2 separate regions of the Homo sapiens genome follow, and region 2 is linked to region 1. A link means that fine-mapping ties the variant in region 1 to the expression of a gene that starts in the linked region. Tissue or cell type: whole blood. Region 1 holds a variant in brackets; the other region holds the start of a gene. All regions are shown on one strand. Distances are from middle to middle. Region 1 overlaps ZFAT (zinc finger and AT-hook domain containing). Region 2 holds the start of ZFAT (zinc finger and AT-hook domain containing).

What was found. PIP is the estimated chance that this variant, and not a neighbour inherited with it, causes the effect.
Region 2: ZFAT starts here. The variant in region 1 is fine-mapped to the expression of ZFAT in whole blood (INTERVAL, PIP above 0.99).

The regions. Positions count from the first base shown.
Region 1 is chr8:134,636,685-134,648,080 of GRCh38, reverse strand. It overlaps ZFAT (zinc finger and AT-hook domain containing), which reads left to right. Exons shown (of 16, transcript NM_020863.4): 3 at 10,369-10,620. Among named protein-coding and RNA genes, the nearest start is that of ZFAT, 71 kb to the left of the region's middle. The variant G/A (reference allele first, on the strand shown) is at 5,984.
Region 2 is chr8:134,707,197-134,718,592 of GRCh38, reverse strand. ZFAT (zinc finger and AT-hook domain containing) reads left to right here and starts at 5,562. Exons shown (of 16, transcript NM_020863.4): 1 at 5,562-5,748. The coding sequence starts at 5,730. RefSeq lists enhancers at 5,551-5,730, 8,482-9,165.

The sequences.
Region 1 (11,396 bases):
CTATTACCTCACATAGCTACCATTATTTTTGTATGTACGTGGTGAAAACATTTAAGATATGTCTTAGCAAATTTTAAGTATATAATACAGTGTTGTTAGTTATAGTCATCATGCTTTACCTTAGATTCCCAGGATGCATTGAATCTATAGGTTGCTTTTGTTAGTATGAACATTTTAACAATATTAATTCTTCTGATCCATAAATGTGGGATATCTTTCCATTTATTTGTGTCGTCTTCAATGTCTTTCATTGATATGGTTTTTAGTATACGGATCTTTCACCTTGATTATATTTATGCCTAAGTATTTTTTTCGACGCTATTATAAATGGGATCGTTTTCTTTTTCAGTTGTTTTTGTGTAGAAACACAACAGATCTTTGTATGTTGATTTTGTATCTTGTAACATTTGTAACTTTATACATTATCCAAAAGCTATTAGAAGTATAATCTTTAGGGCTTTCTATATCTAAGATTATGTCATCTACAAACAGAGACAGTTCTACTCCTTCCATTTTACTTTGCATGCTTTGTATTTTTGCTTACCTAACTACTCTGGCTAGGACTTCCAATGCCAGGAAGCATATAAGTGGTGAGAGTAGGCACCCTTGTCCTATTCCTGATCTTAGAGGAGAGCTTTCAGCTTTTCACGTTGATTATTATGTTAGCTCTGGGTCTGTCGTTTGTTGAAGCACATTCCTTTATTATGTTGTGGTACATTCCTTGTTATCTAGTTTTTTGAGAGTTTTTATCATGAAGGGTTGTTGAATTTTGTCAAACTTTTCCCCATACTTATTGAGATGATCATGTATGATTTTTGTCCTTAATTCTATAAATGTTATATATCACATTTATTTATACACATATGTTGAACCAGCCTTGCATCTTAGAGATAACACCCTCGTTATCATGGCGTGTAATTTTTTTAATGTGCTGTTGAATTTGGTTTGTTAGTATTTTTTGAGTATTTTTGTTTATCAGGAATATTGGCCTGTAATTTTCTTTTTTTGTAGTGTCTGTCTAGCTTTGGCCTTACAAAATGAGTTGGGAGGTATTCCCTCCTCTTTAATTTTTTTGAAGAGCTTGAGTAAAACTGGAATTAATTCCTTTTTAAATGTTTGGTAGAGTTCACCAGTGAAACCACCTGGTCCTGGGCTTTTCTTTGTTGGGAGATTTTGATTACTGATTCAGTCTCCTAACTTGTTATTGATCTATTCAGATTTTCTATTTCCTTATGATCCAGTCTTGGTAGATTGTGTGATTCTAGGAATTTATCAGTTTCTTCTAGGTTATCTAGTTGGTTGGCATATAATTGTTGATAGTAGTCTTTTATGATCACTTGTCTTTCTGTGGTGCCAGTTATAATGTGTCCTTTTTTATTCAAAATTTAATTCATTTGTGGCCTCTCTTTTTTTCTCGGTTAGTCTAGCTAAGGGTTTCTCAACTGTGTTTATCTTTTCAAACAACAAGCTCTTAGTTTGTTGATCTTTTTTATTCTTTTTCTATTTTGTTTATTTCTGCTCTATTCTATTATTTCCTTCCATCTGCTCACTTTGGGCTTATTTATTCTTCTTTGTCTAATTCCTTGAGTTGTAAAATTATGTTGTTTATTTGAGATTTTTCTTTTTTTCTAATGTAGGCAATAAACTTTCTTTTTAGAACTGCCTTTGCTACATCCTATAAGTTTTGGTATGTTGTGTTTTTGTTTTGTTCATCTCAAAGTATTTCTAATTTCCCTTATGATTTCCTTTTTGGCCCAATGGCTATTTAAGAGTACCATTTAATTTTCATAAATTTTTGAATTTCCCAAATTTCTTCCTTTTTATTTCTAATTTAATTCCACATACTTGAATGATTTCCATTCTTTTTTCTTTGAGATGGGGTTTCGCTCTTTCGCCCAGGCTGGAGTGCAGTGGCGTGATCTCGGCTCACTGCAACCTCCGCCTTCCAGTTTCAAGCGATTCTCCTGCCTCAGCCTCCTGAGTAGCTAGGACTACAGGCGCCCGCCACCACGCCCGGCTAATTTTTCTATTTTTTTTTTTAAGTAGAGACGGTGTTTCACTGTGTTGGCCAGGATGGTTCTCAAACTCCTGACCTTGTGATCCACCCGCCTCGGCCTCCCAAAGTGCTGGGATTACAGGCGTGAGCCACTGCGCCTGGCTCAGTTCTTTTAAATTTATAGAGACTTAACTTATGGCCTAAAATGTTGTCTGTTTTGGAGAATTTTTCATGTGGACTTGAGAATACTTTGTATTCTGCTGTTGCTGGGTGGCATGTTCGGTATATGTATTAGAATTTGTTGGTTTATAGGGTTATTCACATCTATTTCCTGGCTGATGCCCAGATTTTATAATTGAGGAATATGTGGCTTAGAGACTCAGAGGAGTTAAAACAGCATGTTCAAGATTACCTATATAGTAAGTGAGAGGGAGGGATTTAGGCCCAGCTGATTTGATGTTATTTGCATGTTATGGTGGTAGTCCAGGAATAATCAAATTCTTATCATTGAGCCTACTTTTATAAATTATTTTCTTTTATTAAATAATTTACTTTTGACAAATTCTTCTTCCGTATGTTTTCTTTTTTGTGTGTGTGTGTATACTAAACTACTTTTGTCTGTGTAGTTTAATTTTAAAAAGCATGAATTCCTTAGTTAAACTCAGCCTCTTAACATGACAAAAAATTTTAAAAAGTCTTTCATTATGAACTTCAAGTCTTTCTTTTTCTCTTTGTGAAAGTTCATAAAATTTGAGGCTTGTAGAGGCTTAGTTTCTCTCTAATGATTTTCATTCAGGTTTAACCTTCACAATTCATTTTAAATTGAGAGCTACTTGAAATGGTTTAATTAAACCTTTAACTGAGTAGTAATTGATTTATTATTTTGGTCTCTCGTTATAACGTGAAGCCACTGAAATCCTCTGGTTTATTTTATAGCCTTTTAATCTTTTTTGCTCATGTAGGAAGTGGTCTGCAGAAAGACCTTTCATTTTCCTTCTCTTTTCCTCATCAAACCTCTGGCTGTGATCCAAGAAGAAATTTCCTAATGGACCAAGCTCATTCTCGTGTGTGTGATCCCATGTGCGTGTGTGTGATCATATCTCTGTGTGTATGTGTATGGGTGTGTTTGTGAGTACACAGGTATGTGTGTATATGGGTGTGTTTGTGTGTGTGCATGTGATTGTGTATATAGGCACGTTTGAGTGTGCACGTTGTGTGATTGTGTATATAGATGGTGTGTGAGTGTGCACGTGTGTGATACTGTATATGTGCGCATGCGAGTGTGCATGTGTGTGATTGCATATCTGGGCACATTGTGAGTATACATGTGTGTGTGATTGTGAATATGGGCACGTTTGTGAGTGTGCTGTGTGTCGTGGGCATATGTGTAAGTGCACGTGTGTGTGGTTGTGGGCACATGTGTAAGTGCACGTTTGTGTGTGAGATTGTGTATACGGTACATTTGGGAGTGTGCACATGTGTATGTGGTTGTGTACATGGGTTGTGTATGTGGTTGTGTACGTGTGTGAGTGTGCATGTGTGTGTGGTTGTATAGGTGCTTGTGTATGTGTGTATGATTGTGTATATGGATATGTGTGTGCACGTGTATGATTTTGTATATGGGTGTGTATGAGCATGTGTGTGTGAGAGTGTGTGTGCACACGCATGCATTCATTTATCCTGATGGAGGCTGGGGCAATTGAGGAAGAATGTACATGGGTCTCCCGAGAGCCTCGTTTTGGCTCTCCCATTTTCTCTCTGATTTCAGACCCTCTGCAGGAATTCTTCCTTTCTTATCTTTCCTCTCCTCTCCCCTCCCCCTTTCCATCTCTTTAGTCATTAACTGTTTGTTGGGTGCCTGCTGTATGTCTGGGTGCTGTGCTAGGTGCTGGGGCTGCAGGAGGGGCCCACAGGCTGTTGACTCTGGCCCCCTAGCTGGTGAATGGCAAATAGGCAAAAAGGCAGTTTCAGTGCAGCAGGGCGAGTGCCTCTGCGCGGTTAAGTTCAGGCTGCTAAAGACGTCCTCTAATGTGAGGGTAAAAGGAGGCTTCCCAGGGGAAGTTGATGTCTATGTTTAAATCTGTATGTTGTCTCTTCTGGGCATTTACCACAAATCCAGTCATTCTGAGTGCATGTACGAATGTTGAGCACTCTGATCTGCCCTGGTCAGCAGCGCAGTGTAGTGGAAAGGGCACACGTCTTGGAATCAGACTTAGGCTCCATTCCTGGAGCTTTCATGTGATTGCTGGAGCCTTGGCTGGCACATAGGGACCTTTGTGCAGATTACAAAAGGCGCCCCCATTCTGAGGGGATGAGCTAGTAACAGGAGCTGTTTCTGGGTGAACAAACATAAAACGTGCTCAGGGCTGATGCAGCCAGTGCCGGAGCACACAGCTTGGCTAGTGGAATTTGGCCCTGGTAAGTCTTCAATCACCGCCTCACACAGGGTACAGCCTGCACCACAGCCTTGAGGCTCTGCTGGGGACTTAGACAAGTGGCATGGCTGTGACTTTTGTCACCTGTCAAAGAGAGATAAGATACTGACCTTTTTCATAGGTTCTGAGACAAGTGCATGTTCATACATGATGCCTTAGTCCATAGTGACTGCCTGTTAGACATTGTACCCTCCTGTACCTTACATCCGTGTACTTTCCAGCCCAGGGAGTGGGATCACACTGAAGCTTGTCACTGCATGAGACTATCGTCATTTTCCTGCAGAACTTAGTGAAGAGGTCAAAGTATATTATTTCTGTGCTTAGATATTAATTGAACTGTCCAAAGGACTTGCTATGACATGGGTATGAAGTTCACTGACTTTGAGGCAAACAGGTCTGTATTCAATTCCTGATTCTGCCATTTATTAATTCCCTGACCTTGGAGCAAATAAGTTAATCTTCTTAAGCCTCAGTGACCTCTACTATATGATGGGGATCATACTAATGCCTCCCTTGGGGATTAAATGAGGACGTGCATGTGAAGTGCTTAGCATGGTGCCTGAGATATATGTGCTTAATAATGATTAGTTATCACCATTATTTACGTGGCATTTCCACGATATGGCTGGTAAAAGTACAAGGAGCAAGCTTGGGATGCCTTCAGCCTCCCTGGTGCCTGGCATTGTGGAACAGGATGCAGTCTGTCCCTGCAAAGGGGATGTTGCATTCCTCATAAACCTAAGAGGCTTGTGTTCCCCTATTTATGATAAATAATTCATTGTCTCCCCTATTGCTTCCTGAGCTTTGGAAATAAACGTCAGGGAGATTGACTGTCAGGGCCTTAAAATGTTAGTCTTTCAGGATTTTCCAAAATTCTTGAGTTGGTGTGATTAGAGATTGAGCTGCCCTGTGCGAGTGCTGGGAAGCTGGCCGTATCCAGGGTTTTAGGCATAATAAAATTTGTGTGCCTTTAATTCTACATTGGATTTCCTGGTGTGAGAGCTATTTTAAAATGAAGAACTCAAGGAAAAAATGCGTATTGAGTCAGAATGAATGAGAATGCATGTACATCAAGAAATCACATTATCTAACTGTGGACCAGGTGGGAGGATAATAGTTTCTTAAAAGAGATATTCTAAGTCAGAATCTTAATGACTATGGCCATAATATTAAACAGTTGCCATTTATCAATCATCTCCTGAGTTCTGTGCCCAGCATTGTAATGGATTGCTTTTATCAGTAGTGACTCTATAAAATAGAGGCAGTTTTGTGTTTATTTTTCGCATTGGAAACGGAGGCTCAGGGGAGATTTGAACCCAGGTCGGTCCAGCTCCAAGCCAGCATTCTCTGCACAGCACAGATTGTCTCTATTAAAGTGTGTAGTGCTGACCTTTTCTTACCCATGCTTCAGGGGTATGTGATTCTGCAGATACATTTTTGACTGGGAATAAGGAAACCCAAATTCCAGTTCTGCGTGCTCAGCAGCTGGTTCTGGAAGATGCGCCAAGCCACTTGAACCGTTGTGTCCCTTGTTTCTTCTCCCATTGAGGAC[G/A]TTGTGTTTGCTGCATCCATCTCTTAAGATTTTTATAAGGCTAAAATGAGATAATAGCTGGGAAAGTGCCTTGCAAACTTGAGTGATGCACAAATAAAGGGCTTACGTTATTAAATTGTTGATAATGTTGGGCTATTTTTTCATAGTGTTCACGTTGTGTTTTGATTGAGTTAGAAGTAATCCTTTGGCCGATTCTCTGCCCCTTGCCAGTTTTTGGCCTTGGATCTGCAAGGATGATTTTCTGACTAAGAGGAAGTTGTCCCCAAACTGTGGATTTAGAGCAGAGTTAAGAGGCACTGTGGCTCAGCCCTTTCTTCCTTTTGGAAACTGGGGACACAGGAAATGGCTTCTTTTCCAGATATTTCTTTTTCTATCATCAAACAGTGGATCAGTGTGTACTTATTAATTGTATCTACTCCACATCCAGCTCCGTTCGAGACCCTGTGGGACCCAGGAATTAAAAGGCCAGCTCAGACCTCAGGGTTTGTCATAAAAGGTGGGGAAAAATCGAAACAATCAGGGAGTGGTGTGGGCGCATACACACCCTACGTGTGTGTGGCTCACACTGTAATTCACATCAAGCTGTGGGGGTAGTCATCCTGCTCACTTAGCTGGGGACACCTCATGGAGGAGGCACTGAGGTCTTAACTGGACCGGACATGTTAGGATTTGAACTGGGGCTTGGTCTCTGATTGGTAGTGAAGGAGGTGGTCACAGCTTGGGAGAATAGTACAAGTAAGTGAAAAGAGACGGGGATTCTCTGTGTATATTTGGGGAGGTCTAGAAAATTGCCCTGAGCAGTTAAGGGGGAGGAAGAAGGAAGTGGGGTCACTGAATGTGTGTGTGTGTGCAGGTGTGTGTGTCTGTGTGTGCATATGTGCAGGGTTGGATCACGTGCTAAAGGACCTTGAAGGCCAGGCCTGAGAGTTGTGGGCAAAATCATCCAGAACAATGGAAGGTTCTAGAGTGAGGGAATGACAGATGAGGGATGGAGGCAGAGAAAGCCCAGAGCAGGAGGCTGGAATCTGGACACCGTGTGCAGGCATCTGGGTGGTGAGGTTGCTGTGTGAACAGAGAGGGGATTTACTGGAGAGACATCTTTAGGGCAAAGTCCATAGAGTTTAGTGACAGATTAAATAAAGGAATTCAGAGGGAGGAAGAGGAATTAAAGCTAACTCCATTGAAATGTTTTGATTTAGAGGTTACATGATTTTCCTTGCCCAGTCCCAAGATTCTCAGCTCTGCCATAAAATGCGAGTAGTTGACAGCAGCAACTCATTTTCAGAGCTTAAATTATTCAAGTTCATTCATGAATATTTCATTTTTAGCTAGCTAATTGGTCTTGAGGATCTGAATTATGGATGCAGCAAGCTGGAAGATTAGTTTTGTCACCATCGTGTTTGAGGTTTTCCAAAGCTTTCAGGCCGATTTTATTTTTTCCTTGCCTTGGAATTAATTGTGCATTGCTCATCAGTTTAATTCACCCAGATTTGCTGGCTGCCTGCTGCTCAGGGCACCAGGTTAGGTGCGAGGGGGATAAAAAGTAATCAGGACAGGGACTCTGCCTTCGAGGAGTCTCCAGTCTGGGGGAGTGGAGACTCACGATGTCTGCTGTACCACACGCTGTGCTGTGCTCCAGCAAGTGCAAACACTGTGGCTGTCTGTGCTCCATTGAGTCTGTGTGGAGAAAACACTGGCTACCCCGCAATAGTAAGTTTGCCAAACTCAAGCTTAAGGGCACAGTTCTCCGCAAGACGACCAAGTCTGCCCAAGACTCCTGATACCAGCCACAAGTTTGGAGGGTCTCCTGGACCACCTTTACTTCTTTCTTACTACTACAGATTTGGAAGGTCCCTGCGGCCTCTCTCAGCTTTGATAATTTGCTAGAATAACTCACACAACTCAGGAAAGCCCTGTCCTCATGATTATAATTTGATTATACTCAAAGGATGCAAATCAGAGAGCCAGTTAAAGGGAGAGAGGTGTGTGGGTAAAGTTGCAGACTGGGAAGGTTCTAGACGTGGAGCTTTTGGTCCACCCATGGAGTCCTGAGCAAAGTTACCTCTCTCCCAACTACAACATAGGACATCAGGAGGGACATCCGGGGGCCTAGAAATCACCTCCCTGTAGCCAAGGGCAAAGGCCAGACTTCTCTTTGGGTAAAGTTAATTCTTCACTCACAATCACATCCTCATAGAGTGTTTCAGGGGAGTGGCTTGTGTCTGCGGGATGGCAGAGTCTGTCACTGGGTTTAGACCTGGGCCGCAGGCTTCAGTAAACTCTTAGGCACCCTGTTTCTGGAACTCAGCTGACATGACACGAGGTGGGTGTTTTGTAGCCTCTCTGCTAATTCTGCTTCTCTGATATGAATTGCTGCTTCAGTAGATTGTGCAAGTACACGTTGTTGTGAAGAAGAATAAGGAGAAAAGTTTTAAAGACTCCAAGGGAAATGGTTTCTTACTCTGTACCTTGTATTTCTTTCCTCCCATCTCCCTTGCACACAGGCTGGTTCTCCTGTAAACACAGGCTTTTTTCTCCTTGTTTAAATCTAGGGAGGGCTCCCAGGGCCTTCTGTCCCTTGTTTTATCTGGTTTGCCTTCCTATCATTAAGTACCTTCTTCTTCTTTGTGCTCCCCTGCCCACCATGCCCCAGGGAGATAGAGTGAAGGCAGGAATCTCGCTGGTTGCCTTAGTGCAGGACTCTGGTTTGGATCTTTCAGCCAAGGCTGACCCACTCACCAGTGGCGTTGCAGTTTGGTTGAAGCTCTGTTCCAGCAAGGGCCCTCCTTTCCCAGGAAATCTCTTGCTTCATTCTGGTGCCAGGTTTCCCTGAGGTCTTGGGTACCCCGTACCAAGGCAGGCTTCTTTGTTCAGATTCCCTGTGGTCAGGCTGTTGTGTCCCTGCAGACTCTGCCCCAGACTGTTCTGCCCATCTCTGCTCCCCTTTGCCCCTGTGGCCTCCCTCTCTGATTTGTGAGCACAAGTGACTTACTTAACGGGTCCTCATGGTAATAGCAGTAGATAAAGTGGCTGGTGTCCTACTGTGCAGAGCAACAGCTTTAGAGAGAGCAGGAAGGGACCTGAGAGACATTCTACAGATGCACGTGTACCCAAGATGGTGCCAGAATCTAGTACTCCTTCCTCTACCCCAATGTTCAGGTTCAAAGAGGGTTGCTGAAGTGCCACTCCTCTGCCAGACAGATGACTGGCATTGGGGATGTCAGCCAGGCTGCTGGCGGCTCTCTGCTTGGTCTCGCTCAGGGACATCTCCTAAGTCTCATCGTTGAAGACCACACCCCTCCACCTTCACACAACTGGATGAGATGCTCTGCTCCCTGCCCTGCTCACCCATCTTTTTTTTTTTTTATTTGAGATGGAGTCTCGCTCTGTTGCCCAGGCTGGAGTGCAGTAGTGTGATCTCAGCTTACTACAAGCTCTGCCTCCCAGTTCACGCCATTCTCCTGCCTCAGCCTCCTGAGTAGCTGGGACTACAGGTGCCCGCCACCACGCCTGGTTAATGTTTTTTTTTTTTGTTTTGTTTTTTTTTTGTATTTTTAGTAGAGACAGAGTTTCACCATGTTAGCCAGGATAGTCTCGATCTCCTGACCTCGTGATCCGCCCACCTCGGCCTCCCAAAGTGCTGGGATTACAGGCGTGAGCCACCGCGCCTGGCCCCCGCTCACCCCTCTTAATTCCCACCTTCATTCCGGAGATGAATGCCTTAAAAATTAACACTAATTGAGAAGAAACACAAGTTGTAAAATGATTTTAAACTTGCTCTAAAGCAGCTGTGATCATGCCATTGAAAATCACTAGGTCGCTAGGAAACTGGAAAAATATTGTTATTGTCTTTAGTGCTATAATTTGTGGCTTTAGATTGTAATTATTTTTTCTTTTTCTTGCCAGGACAATTTGACTCTAATAATTATGACTCCTTGAAATAATCTGAATAGTTTTGTAACTCATTAAGGGCATGACAAGCTCAGCAGCCTTTGAGAACGCTTTGCAAAGGAGTCCCTAAGCAGTTTCTGAGAACTGGATTTCAGTGGAAATGGTGCTTAACAAGGGGCAGGATTTGTGAACGGGGGGTTGACAGCCGCAACTTAAAATCCTGTCAGCATTGCTGGAGAAAGATGTACAGCGATGCTGATAAACTGATGGTCTTGAATCAGAACATTAGAAAATTGATTACCCATTAGTACACAGATGCAATGATATTAGCACCAACGATAATTGTTTGCAGCTGTTAATGTCTGGAATCACTTTAGACTTTTCATTTTTAATGAAACGTGAAACCTGAACATATCCTCACACTTGGAGGGTGATTGTGAACCCTGCACTGCCGTCTCACGTGATTCCATTGTGCCCTCTTGTTTCCTCTGTAGAGTTTTTGGTCATGAAGAGGAAGAGAGGCAGGCCTAAGGGGTCCACGAAGAAGTCCAGCACAGAAGAGGAGCTGGCAGAAAACATCGTGAGTCCGACTGAGGACAGCCCGCTGGCTCCGGAGGAAGGGAACAGCCTGCCTCCAAGCAGCTTGGAGTGTAGCAAGTGCTGTCGGAAGTTCTCCAACACGCGCCAGCTGCGGAAGCACATCTGCATTATCGTGCTGAATTTGGGTGAGGAGGAAGGAGAAGCAGGTAAATGCTGCCAAAGGGCTGAACATGTCAATTTCTTATGAAGAGGTGTATCTGCTAATATCAGGTTTCACTGGGTCAGTTTTTACTTGGAAATAGCACATATTTATTCAGCTCTCACCCATCTGGAAAAGTGCTTATTTTCCTAATGATGACTATTACCGTAAGTAGTCTTTGAAGTGAATGTGTCATCTGGGAGTTGATGCCCATGGCATGCAGGTCAGGGGACTGCTTTGCTAGATGCTTTGAGAGTTGCAGGGATGGTAAAACACAGCCTCTCTCTTTGCTGAGCTTATGTTCTGGGAAAGAAGACAAGGTTTTAAATGCATCATGTTAATCGATAACAAATTGTCAGCAGGAGAAAGCATTCTGATGGAAAGTCAGGAGTGAATCTGGTGTCACAGTTTGGGTGGCATTGAATTGAAGGAAGGACGTCTTAGTGGATGGATGGGGCCATGTGGGCCAAAGTGCAGAGATTAGGATCCTCAAGGCTCCTATGAGGGACCTCGATGGGCCAGCATTGGCTGAGGACTAGATTTCAGTGGGCATTCTTGAAGAAAATAAAGACTATCGGGTGCCTCCTTCAGATACATTCTTGACTAGGCTTCAGCTCTGAAGCAGCTTCTAAAAGAGGCTGAAAGGCGGATAGATGTGGTCAGGGAATGAAGTTGCTGTGGGGTAGTGTGTCTGCAGATGGCCTTCGTCGGAGGAATGAAATAGCAAGGCTACGCTGGAGCAGTTAGGGCCTCTGCTGTGGGTTCTGTTGTTGTTGAGTCCTT
Region 2 (11,396 bases), 71 kb before region 1:
CCCTTTTTTCATGGCCCTGTTACTCTTATTCATAGTTGATTTAAAGAAAATTGGTTATAAATATAGTCACCCTTTTCCTAAACTATTTTTTTTCTTTGAGACAGGTCTTAATCTGTCGCCCAGGCTGGAGTGAATGGCGTGATCTCGGCTCACTGCAACCTCCACCTCCTGGGTTCAAGCAATTCTCCTGCCTCAGCCTCCCAAGTAGCTGGGATTACAGGTGCATGCTACCACACCCAGCTAATGTTTTATATTTTTGGTAGAGTTGGGGCTTCATCATTTTGGCCATGCTGCTCTTGAACTCCTGACCTTGTGATCCTCCTGCCTCGGCCTCCCAAAGTGCTGGAATTACAGGTGTGAACCACTGCACCCGGCCTTTCCTAAACGATTTAAATACAACTGATAAATCAAAACTTAAAACTTTCAAAATAAAATTTTCCTAAACATTTACACAGTCAAATTATCTTGTTTCAATGTAACTGTCGAATGTAACTTCGAAATGCTTCAAATACCTTAAAATTTAACACAAAAGTTTTTACTGCACCATACCTAAACCTACTGCACCCATACCTTAACTTTGTAAAAACAGTTGTTATTACACTGGACATGGAGGCTCATGCCTGTAATCCCAACACTTTGGGAGGCTGAGGTGGGCAGATCACTTGAGGTCAGGAGTTCAAGACCAGCCTGGCCAACATGGTAAAACTCCTTCTCTACTAAAAATACAAAAATTGGCTGGGCATGGTGGCAAGCGCTTGTAATCCCAATTACTTGAGAGTCTGAGGCAGGAGGCCTGAATCCTGGAGGCGGAGGTTGCGGTGGGTTGAGATCTCACCACTGCACTCTGGCCTGGGTGACAGAGGCGGATCACGAGGTCAGGAGATGGAGACCATCCTGGCTAACATGGTGAAACCCCGTCTCTACTAAAAATACAAAAAAAAAATTAGCCGGGTGTGGTGGTGGGCGCCTGTAGTCCCAGCTACTCGGAAGGCTGAGCAGGAGAATGGCATGAACCCAGGAGGCAGAGCTTGCAGTGAGCCGAGATGGCACAACTGCACTCCAGCCTGGGCGACAGAGTGAGACTCCGTCTCAAAAAAAAAAAAAAAAAAAAAAAAAAAAAAAAAAAGAGTTGTTATTGACTTGACCAATTTCTTTGTCATCTCTACAAAACATATTTTTATACTTTTTCAGGACTGCCCTTATTGGACCACAGAGAGAAAGATGATCTCCTTCCCAGGTGCACTGAGTGGCAGCCTTGGGCCTGGACTGGTGGGTTCTTGGTGGCAGCAGGCATTTGCTGGTGGGGGCTCCCTCAGACCATTTTCAACTATTAAGTCAAGAGGACTTACAGCAAGTTCTTGCAATCTTCACTCCCATGTGCATGAAGTCTTGGGTCCATGATGTTCTGCCACAGTTTACAATGACCTTCATTATGCATCATTAGCATTTCATTAACATTAGCAGGGCCATATAGCAGTTTAATCTATCAGCTACTCCCTTAGGACATCTGGCTAATCCATTAACTTCCAACATAAATTATTGAACCCCCCTTTTAGCTGGTTATTTATGAGACCACTGGTCCTGACCTGCCCTTCCTGGTTTTGGCATGGTTCCTAGTCTTCTGGAAGTCTTTGACTTACTCTTAGTAAACTTATCTGCCCCTCGAAACTTACACAAATATACCATTTCATAAACAGACATACAGAACTTCAAGTAAGAAATAGGACCCCATATCTACCAAACCTGTCTCTTTACTAAAATATCCTATTTTGACCCTTTCTTTGAATTGTAACTAGTTTTGTAATTACACAGTTATATGTCTATTTTTGCATATACAATGTTAACTTTTTATCAGTAAAGCCTCATGGCTCAACTTGTAGATCAACAACCATAGATCTACAGTTGTTGTGATATGCAAATTGTCACTGCCTCTTCCTTTGTCCTTTCAGCACTAACCCAGCATTTTTGGAAGGAACCTGGTTTTCTGAGAATAGCAATATGTTTCAGGCCATTCTGATGTTCCCTTACTCCCACACATGGAATTAGCTTCTTTGAAGGGGCCCTGGCTACTGCTAATGAAAACCACTCCGGAGATTAATACTTGGGTACTGAGAGTACACACAGGTGTGCACAGGCAGACCGGGGATGTGATGGCACTCCATGGCCACTGGAAAGACAGGTGGAAAAGATGCTGTTTCCTAATCTTGTAATTATGTTCATAGTGAGATTGCTCATATAGTTCTAGCATTACTACATCCTTCTCTTTTATATGATTTTTAAGTGGATTATTTTCTACAATGTGCCTATTTAGATTTTTAACTGTTAACCCAAACTGATTATTCCCACCTCTGATTTTATCATTTTATAGATATATATGTGTGTGTGCATACATATGCATATATATATATATGTGTGTGTGTGTGCATATATACATATATATATATATATAAATAAATTTTAGGGACAGGGTCTTGCTTTGTTGCTGCCCAGGTTGGAGGAGTGCAGTGGCATGATCACAGCTTATTGCAGCCTTGAGCTCCTGGGCTCAAGCAATCCTCCAGCCTTGGCCTCCCATAGTGTTAGGATTACAGGCATGAGCCACCATGCCCAGCCAAGATCCATTATTTTGAGGTCGCCTGTATGTATCCTTTATCAAAACCTTCTTTCAAGAAAGCATCCTGTGAAATTATGTTCCTAAATTATTGTTTTCATGTAAATGTCTATTTCTCATAAAGATATTGGATATAATGATAAAATTATTGACACGAATATATTCAGTTGTGCAAATTATATTTCTTATATAACTAAATACCATTTCATGTCGATAAATTTATTGACACAAATTAATTCACATACTAGCTTCAAGAGGCCAACTGCCACCAGTGGTCAGCTGGGAAGCCGCTCTCTTCTAGGAACCATCACCGAGGCAGCTTGCCATTAATTATATACTTTCGAGTGATTTACATCCAATTCCACAAATGTGTCTTCATTAATTGAAGGCATTCTGAAATATTACTGGCAAATAGAAAGAATAGAGATGTTTGCTGATTGAAAATGTGCAAATCACATAGTAAGGCCGTGGAAGAGCCAGCTGTGGACTCATCTCTCCATTTACGAACCTGGATTCCCCCACAGAAAGGGGCCATCTCTTAGTCATTTCCATCTGCCTATGGCCAGGACAGTTTCCAGTAATAATAGGTGCTCAGTAACTCTTCTCTGAATGATGAATGGGTAGGAGGAAGAAAATGCCATGGGAATAGTGGAGAAAATCATAGCTTTCCAAATAATTAACCCAGAACCATCATCCACAGTCCACAATTTCTTCTTTTAATTTGTCTTCAGCAGTCTGAGGTAATTGGGTTTTGAGACAAATTTTAAATTGTTTCATTTCCAAAATTCGTTTGGTCACAACATCTAGGAGCAATCCATCTGCTAATCAATAAACAACATTTAAACGCTGCTGTGAGAAAGGCAAACCGGCACAAAACCAATACTGTCAGCAACCCAGAACAACTCTAATTTCCTGACAGAAATCGATTCACAGCAAAATAATGATTATTGTAAATATTTATAGTTCTAAAAGGAAACGCTCATCAATGCAGCTTTTTGAGCAGTTCATTTCCAAATAAAGATTCTGATGGGCCCCACCTAGCCATGTATCTTGTGGTGGAGGACGTGGTGGCTGTGAAGCGACTCTGTGGCTGTCTTGGAACTGGCTCTCTTGGAGGCTCTCCTGGAGGCCTGGGGGGCAGTTTGGGTACATTTTAGATGTGGTGGGGAGAGGAACACTGGGCATGGAGAGGCGAGATCCACACCTGGCTCTTCACTATTTTGCTGTGTAATCTCAGAAAGCCATTTGACCACTCTGAACATTCCATTTTCTCATCTGGAAAAGGACAATAATCATATTGCCCAACTTAACCTTCCAGATTGCGAGGATGAAATGAAGAAGGGGGAGGCTATATCTGTGAGCATATATTTAACAGACTGGACAACTTTAGGGTCTTTTCATGGTTCCGTATTTCCCAAGAACAGGGTTAAGGAGCAGGCGGGCAGTCTCCTGAGAAATCAGATGAGTCATCCTGAAGCTCAATGCCCAAGGGAGTTTTCCTCCTAAAAAATAAGTGACCCCAGAACGAAGTGTTCATTCAGTAATATGACTATGCAACAGGCGCTGAGAAAACAAGATGAAAAGGACCTATAAGGGCTGCTCAGGAAGCTCAGTCTAGTGAGGATGAACGCTGTGCAAACAGAGAAGTGGGGGATGGAGCTAGGCCAGTGAGACCAGAGCTGTGGGAACATGAAGTGTGAACTTCAGGGCTGTCCGAGAATTTCATGTTGAGCAGCAACCAAAGAGGGTTATTCCAGGAAAAGAAGAACAGGCAAAGACTAGCATTTCAGGGGAACCATGAACACAAATCAGTTTCCCAAACTTCAGTCTCCTGAAGTCTGCTTTTACACTTTTTTTTTTTGGGGGGGGGGGGGCATGTCTTTGCAGCATGTACACCATTTTAAGTTGACTGATTTTTGAAAATGTAAACGAACAATTTAAAAACTTTATATGACTACTGTAAGTGAAAAACGTTATTTGTCATGAACAGAAAATGACCTTAGAACATGGACCACATCAACTCATTACTCATGAAATAAATAACTGTCAGGCTCAGTTTGTTTCTGAGGCTAACGGGGTGACCATTGACAGAGGTAAGGGAGGGAGATAATGACAGATAGGAATGGATGCTACGTAGAAAATATGAAGTGTCTTGGAGGGTTACTTTAGATGGGTTTCGGGGGGTGAGGGTTAGGGGCTGGAAGATATCATTTGAGCCGAGGACTACAGTGTTGGAGCTAAACACCTTAACATCAAAACCAAAAACAAAGTCATTAAATTTCCACCAGACTCAGCTGCCTGCCGAAGGCTGTGCCACAAGCAGAGAAATGAATGAGCGGGTGTTGGAGGCGCGCACATCCAGTGCAGACTTGTTGTGGGACAAAAAGAGACGAGAGAGGAGGAAGTCGCCTTGTCACGTGTGATCGTAGGCCGCTCAGTGCTCTGTAGCCCCTAAAACCCAGCCGGGTGGCCCAAAGGAAAGCACCCCACGCTTCGGGAAACGCCGCAGCTTTGAGCGGGATGCAGGTTGGGAGCACCCCGATGGACACATCAGTAAACTGAGAGCAAGAAAAGTTAATTCGCTGCCCCAAGTTAGGTAGTGAGAGGTAGAGCTGGGACACGAAGCGCACCCAGAACTCTCCTTGCACGCCCAGCTCGGCGGCCCCACATGCCGCGGGTCTAGGGTCGCGCTAGCAGAGGCCTGGCACAACCGCCAGACTCCTGACCCCGAGATCCGCGCTCCGGACCTCCCGAGGGCCCCTCCCTGGGCGTGGCTCAAAACGCGGCGCAGCGGAATCCGTGAAGTGGGATAAAAAGCACGGCCTCCGACTGCGAGCATGCGCGTTAGCTCGGCCCTGCCGGGCCGCGCTCGGCGCCGGGGGAGGGTCACCCGAAGCGGACGTCCGCTACGCAGGCGTCTGCGCCCCGTGGGGAGGAGGGCGAAGACTCCATCCGCCATGTTGGATGCCGCAGATTCGCCATAACCTCGCCGGCTCTTTTCTTAAAAAAATAAAAATAAAAAGCGAAGCGTCAGCAGGGCGCCCCGCCCCCTCGGTCGGCACGGGAGGGGGCCCGGAAGAGCCCGAGGCTTTTTTTTCCTCCGCGGTGGGGCGTTGCCATGGAGACGCGGGCGGCAGGTGAGCCGGGCTGGGGGTTGGGGTGAGACGGGGTGGGGGTGGGGCGCGGCGCGGCGCGCGGAAAGCCGTTTCGAGCGTCGAGTCGGGAAGCAGTGCGCCGGCCGCCGGCCGCCGGCCGCCGGCCGCGGAGGGATCCGGGTCTGGGGAGGAGAGCGAACGTAGTTGCGTTCTGCGGCTCACGTTCAGTCGCTGGGGTATCCCGCCGCAAAAAAAAAAAAAAAGCAAGGCGGGAGCGAGTGGGAGAGCATGCGCCCGGCCGTTTCCACGGCAATGGGTGGCGTTGGGGCGCGGGCCAGCGACGGAACGCAGTGGGCGCGAGGTTCGAATCCCGGCGATGCCAGCTCTTTGACTGGACCTTGGCGGGGCTTCCTTCTTGCCTGGCCTCGGATTCCTCCTTGGCGAAATGAGTACCTCCTGCAGGCTTCCCGGCCGCCGGCTGGACCTAATAGAGTGACAGATCTTCCACTTGACACCCGGTGCAAGTCATTTAACCTTGAGCTTGGGGTCCTTCACCTGTAATTACCACAAGCTTCCACATTTGGGCACTGACTTAACACGTTTTGCTGCTCAGCTCTCTTGAGAACTCTAATTTGTAGGTCATTTATTATGAGGAACAGAAGTTCAGAGAGGTCAACTTTACACAGTTTAAAAACGACAGAGCTGGGGCTTTAAAAATTAACTTCCTCCAACTTGGGCTAAAATCCAAACTCCTGCGTGCTCGCCTGACTTGTACCTCCATCTTCTTAGAATAGGGCTTGGCTCATGTAAGTGTTCACTATATACTTAGTGAATGAAAGAACGAACGCGCTAACTGATCACGCCTGCCCATCAGTCTGGCTTTTTTTGCTGGAGTCCAAGTGACCTTTTGGAGATGCCCCGCACAGCTGCCTCTCACCAGCTTTATCTTCCGAGCCTACCAGTTCATCTACTGAAACATCTGTAGTGTGTGTCCCCATGCTGAAGGAAGTAGCGTGTCCTACCTCTAACCCCCAGGGACACCTTTCCTGACTTTAGTTCAAATAACAGCTTTGCAAGGATCCCCTCTGCACGCCAGGCAGGGGTAAAGAGCAGTCCCAGTCGTAGTCCTGCCTCCACCTGCTGCGGTGCTAGATGTGGGAGAATGTGTCCTGGAGTGACAGAGTGGGCCCAGAGCCGAATATTGGGTCAGGAGACCCGAACTATATCAGGCGTGCTTTTTTTTAATTTAATTTTTTTAATTTTTTGGGACAGAGTCCCGCACTATCACTCAGGCCGGGGTGCAATGGTGCAATCTCGGGTCACTGCAACCTCTGCCTCCCGCCCTCAGGTAAACCTCCCGCCTCAGCCTGCCAAGTAGCTGTGACCACAGGTGCGCTGATTAGCTGTGGTGCCCAGCTGATTCAGGTGTGCTGTCTTAGGTTAGCCTAAAATGAGCACCGGAGAGACTTGCTCTCCAAATACAGGTTGAGCATCCCTAATCCAAAAATCCGAAATCGGAAATGCTCCAAAGTCTGAAACTTTGAGCACTGACATGAGGCCACAGTGGAAAATTTTCTATCTGACCTCGTGAAGGTTCTCAGCAGAAATGCAGTTCCATAGCCGGGCGCAGTAGCTCACGCCTGTAATCCCAGCACTCTGGGAGTCTGAGGCGGGAGGGTCCCTTGAGTCCAGGAGTTCAAGACCAGCCTGGGCAGTGTAGTGAAACCCCATCTCTATTTTTCTCAAAAAACAAAACAAAACAACAGTTGCACAACTGTAAAGACGATGCTGTTAACACTCAGAAAGAAATGCAGGCTGAACAGCAGACTTAAAGCCAGCCGTTGTTTATTGTTCTGTTGTTTAGCAGCTGATGCATGTGTTCTGGTGATGCTGCTGTGCCGCTTAGGTACCTTGAACACCTTGTTTTTCACTGTATTAATGGTGTGTCATATTTTTTACTGGTAAGGACTTATGTGTAAATAAATGTAAGAAAGTGATTGTCTTATTGGTAGCATAGAAATTCAGAGTCGGGAATGATGGCGATGCCAGACAACCACAGATTGCCCATATGTGTGGCTGAGATAGTGACACCTTTGCTTTCTGATGGTTCATTGTACACTTTGTTTCATGATCAAAATTAAAAATATTGTAAAATTACCTTCAGACTGTGTGTATAAGGTGCACATCAAACATAAATAAATTTCATGTTTAGACTTGGGTCCCATCCTCAGGTTATCTCACTATGTATATGCAAATATTCCAAAATCCAAAAACATCTGGAATTCTAAAACTTCTGGTCCCAAGCATTTTGGATATGGGATCCTGAAACTGTAGTTTATTTGGGAATAATAGGGGATTGCAATTTAGATACATGCGCTATGCTGGATCATAGGTACGTCCAAAGAAGTTGGGGCAAATGGAAACTTTTAAAGACCCAAAAGGGAAGTCCACCTAAGCGGTTTTGAAACAAAGACCATTGGTTTCAGAGGTTTATTGCAGGAGCTGGCATTAGTCCATTGGAGACAGGTGCACCAGGCAAGTGTCCTGTGCAAGTAACAGGCTCTAAGGAATTCCTGGCATAGTTCCTGTCATAGGCATACTTGCATGAGGGCCCTTCCTTCCTATCCTCTGGCTCCATTTTGTTAGAGTTTGACATGAGTGACTCCATTTTGATAAACGTGAAATATCTTTTCGATTGGTGCCTTCCTCCTCCCACGTTGTTGCTTATATAGAGAGAATGAGTTGCCCACTTCTCCACTTCTGGAATTTACCCAAGAGTTTTAAAAAAGAACCCTGGACATATGTTGAAGTTTCCTTCAATTTCCAGCTGTACCAAATGAGAAAAGATCATATTTTAAAATGTGTTACTGTCAACTCATGGTCAGCTAATTTCTGAAAAGAGTTTCCTGTTTTGGTTAATTTAGGAAAGGGAGTACAATGAATGATAAGGAGGTGGAGTTGCATGTGGTCTACAGGGCACAGCTGTAGGTGGCAAATGAGCTGAGATGGTCATTGTGTGAATTGGAGCCGTCTTACCGCAGTGCTCCCTTCTCAGTGGGCTTCTCATTTGCCTCCGGTGAAAGGATTCCTGTTTCTTTTCTCCCCATACCTTGCAATTTACATAACTTTTGCAAGATAGCTATTGTTAAGTAGAATTAAGCTCTTGCCTAGAGCAAGGGCAGTCAAGAATCAGATATATTAAAAAGTCTCCTTAATTGCATTTCCCTTTGTAGATAGTTTCAAGCATACAGCCTCTGAAAAACTCTGCACCAAGATGGGCTGATTTAATTACGTAAAAGAGATTTAGCCTAGAGTTAAGTTTTCCCTCTCTTCTCAGCTGTTTACCCTGTTAAAGTTTCACTGATTTGCAATTTCTCAAGGGCAGGCATCAACTTTAAGGGCTGGAACATTTAGGAGGGTAGAAAGAGCACGTGCTCTGGCTCCAGAGATCTGCCTCTCACCAGATTCCTGACCTAAGGGAAGTCACAGAACCCTTGGGACCCCAGTCCCTTCACCGGCAAAGGAGACACAGTCCTGCCACAGGTGGCTGCTGATGGCATTCAGGAAATGGGGTTTGTCTCTTCCCTTCCCAGAACCAGACTTCCCAGTGTACAGCTCAGTACATTGTCATCCACTCTCTTCTTGAAAGCATTTGTGGATGGAAAGGCAGAGACTCCCAGGCTCAGGCCACCCTCCCACATCAGCCTCCTGAATAGCTGGGACTACAGGGGTGCACCACCACACCTGGCTAATTTTTGTATTTTTTGTAGAGATGGGGTGTCACCAGGTTGACCAGGCTGGTATTGAACTCAGCCTAAGAGATCCACTGGCCTCGGCCTCCTGAAATGCTAGGATTATAGGCTTGAGTCACTGTGCCCAGCCGAGTAATTTTTTTTAAATAAGTCATTTTTAAAAATTAAATTAAATTAATTTATTGGCACGGAGTTTTGCTCTTTGCCCAGTCTGGAGCACAATGGTGTGATCTTGGCTCACTGCAACCTCTGCCTTCTGGGCTCAAGCGATTCTCCTGCCTCAGCCTCCCAAGTAGCTGGGATTATAAGCATGCGCCACCACGCCTCGCTAATTTTGTACTTTTAGTAGAGGTGGGGTTTCACCATGTTGGTCAGGCTGGTTTCCAACTCCTGACCTCAGGTGATCCGCCTGCCTCAGCCTCCCAAAGTGCCAGTATTACAGACGTGAGCCGCTGTGCCTGGCCGAGTAATTTTTTTTTAAAAGAGAAAAGAAAAAGCAGAGCAAAACAAAATAGACATTTTAAACATCTTACAGATTTAAAGTTGCCTCCTTTTTTTTCAAGGAACACAAAATATATAGATGATTGAGTTTACTTATAAAGATAATGCTTGGCATATTTATAGAAAAACACGGACTTAAAATTGGGTAACATAATCTTTTTTTAAATTAAAAAAACTGTAACGACATATTTGTTTCTTTACGGGGTATAATGTGATGTTATGATTTATGAGTATAATGTGGAATAATTAAATCAAGCTAATTAACATATCCATCAGCTCAAATAGTTATCATTTTGTGGTAAGTAAACATTTAAAATTTACTCTTAGCAAATTTGAAATGTACGTTATTACTGTATTCACCATGCTGTGCAATATGTCTCAAAGAAAAAAACGATTCCTCTTGTCTAATTGAGGCTTTGTAGCCTTTGATCATCATTTCTTCCTACACCTTCAGGCTCTGGTACCCACCATTCTACTCTCTGCTTCTTTGAGCTCCATTGTTTTAGAGTTCACATGTAAGAGAAAACATGCAGTGTTTGTCCTTCTGTGCTGGCATATTTTACTTAGGACAGTGTTCTCCAGTTTCATCCATGTTGTCACAAACGACAACATTTCTTTTTTACAGCTGAATAATATTCCGTTGTGTATATGTCCCACATTAAAAAAATCATTCATGTGTTGTTGGCCACTGAGGCCGATTCCATACTTGACTATTGTGAATAGCACAACAGTGAACATGGTTCAGTCATTCCTTTCAATATACTGGTTTCAAATCTTTTGAGTTATTTTAAATCATGTAATACATGGAGCTGCAAAAGGTGGAACTCTGGAATCGGATGCCTTTGTGTTCAACACAGTCTGATCAAGGCAGGATGGGTGGGGTAGGGACCTGGCCTTAGAGGATGCCAGTGGAAGCTGCGGGTTGTCTGAATAAGAAAGGGGCAGCATCCCATAGTGGGCAGTGGGGGAAAAGAGGACCAGCTCAGCCATGGGACCTGGAGCCAAGGACCAGGAGAGCTTGGGGTGTCCTGGCATTGCTGGAGGGCATTTTAATTCAGCCCCAAGACTTCTTGTAGGGCTCTAACTGGCTTCTTTCTTAGTGTTAGATATTCTCCTTGTGTCCCTGCTGGTGGGCCTCTTCTTCAGGAGTGGCTACCATTTCTCTGCCCCTTAGGGTTATTATTATTGCTTATTAATTTTTTTTTTACTATTAGGCTGGTCATCAGTTTACCTAGATGTTTATGCCAAACTTTGTGCTGTTTGCTAGGCATGCAAAGTCCAATATGACATGTTCTTTCCTCTTGAGGATTTCATGCAGTCCTGGCAGTGGAAAACGGATTCCTGTAGGAATGGGTCTAGGTGCTGTGATGGAAGTAAGCCTTGAGTATTGAGGGTTTCAGAGGGGGTGCATCTACCCCAGCCCCAGGGATTGTGGGA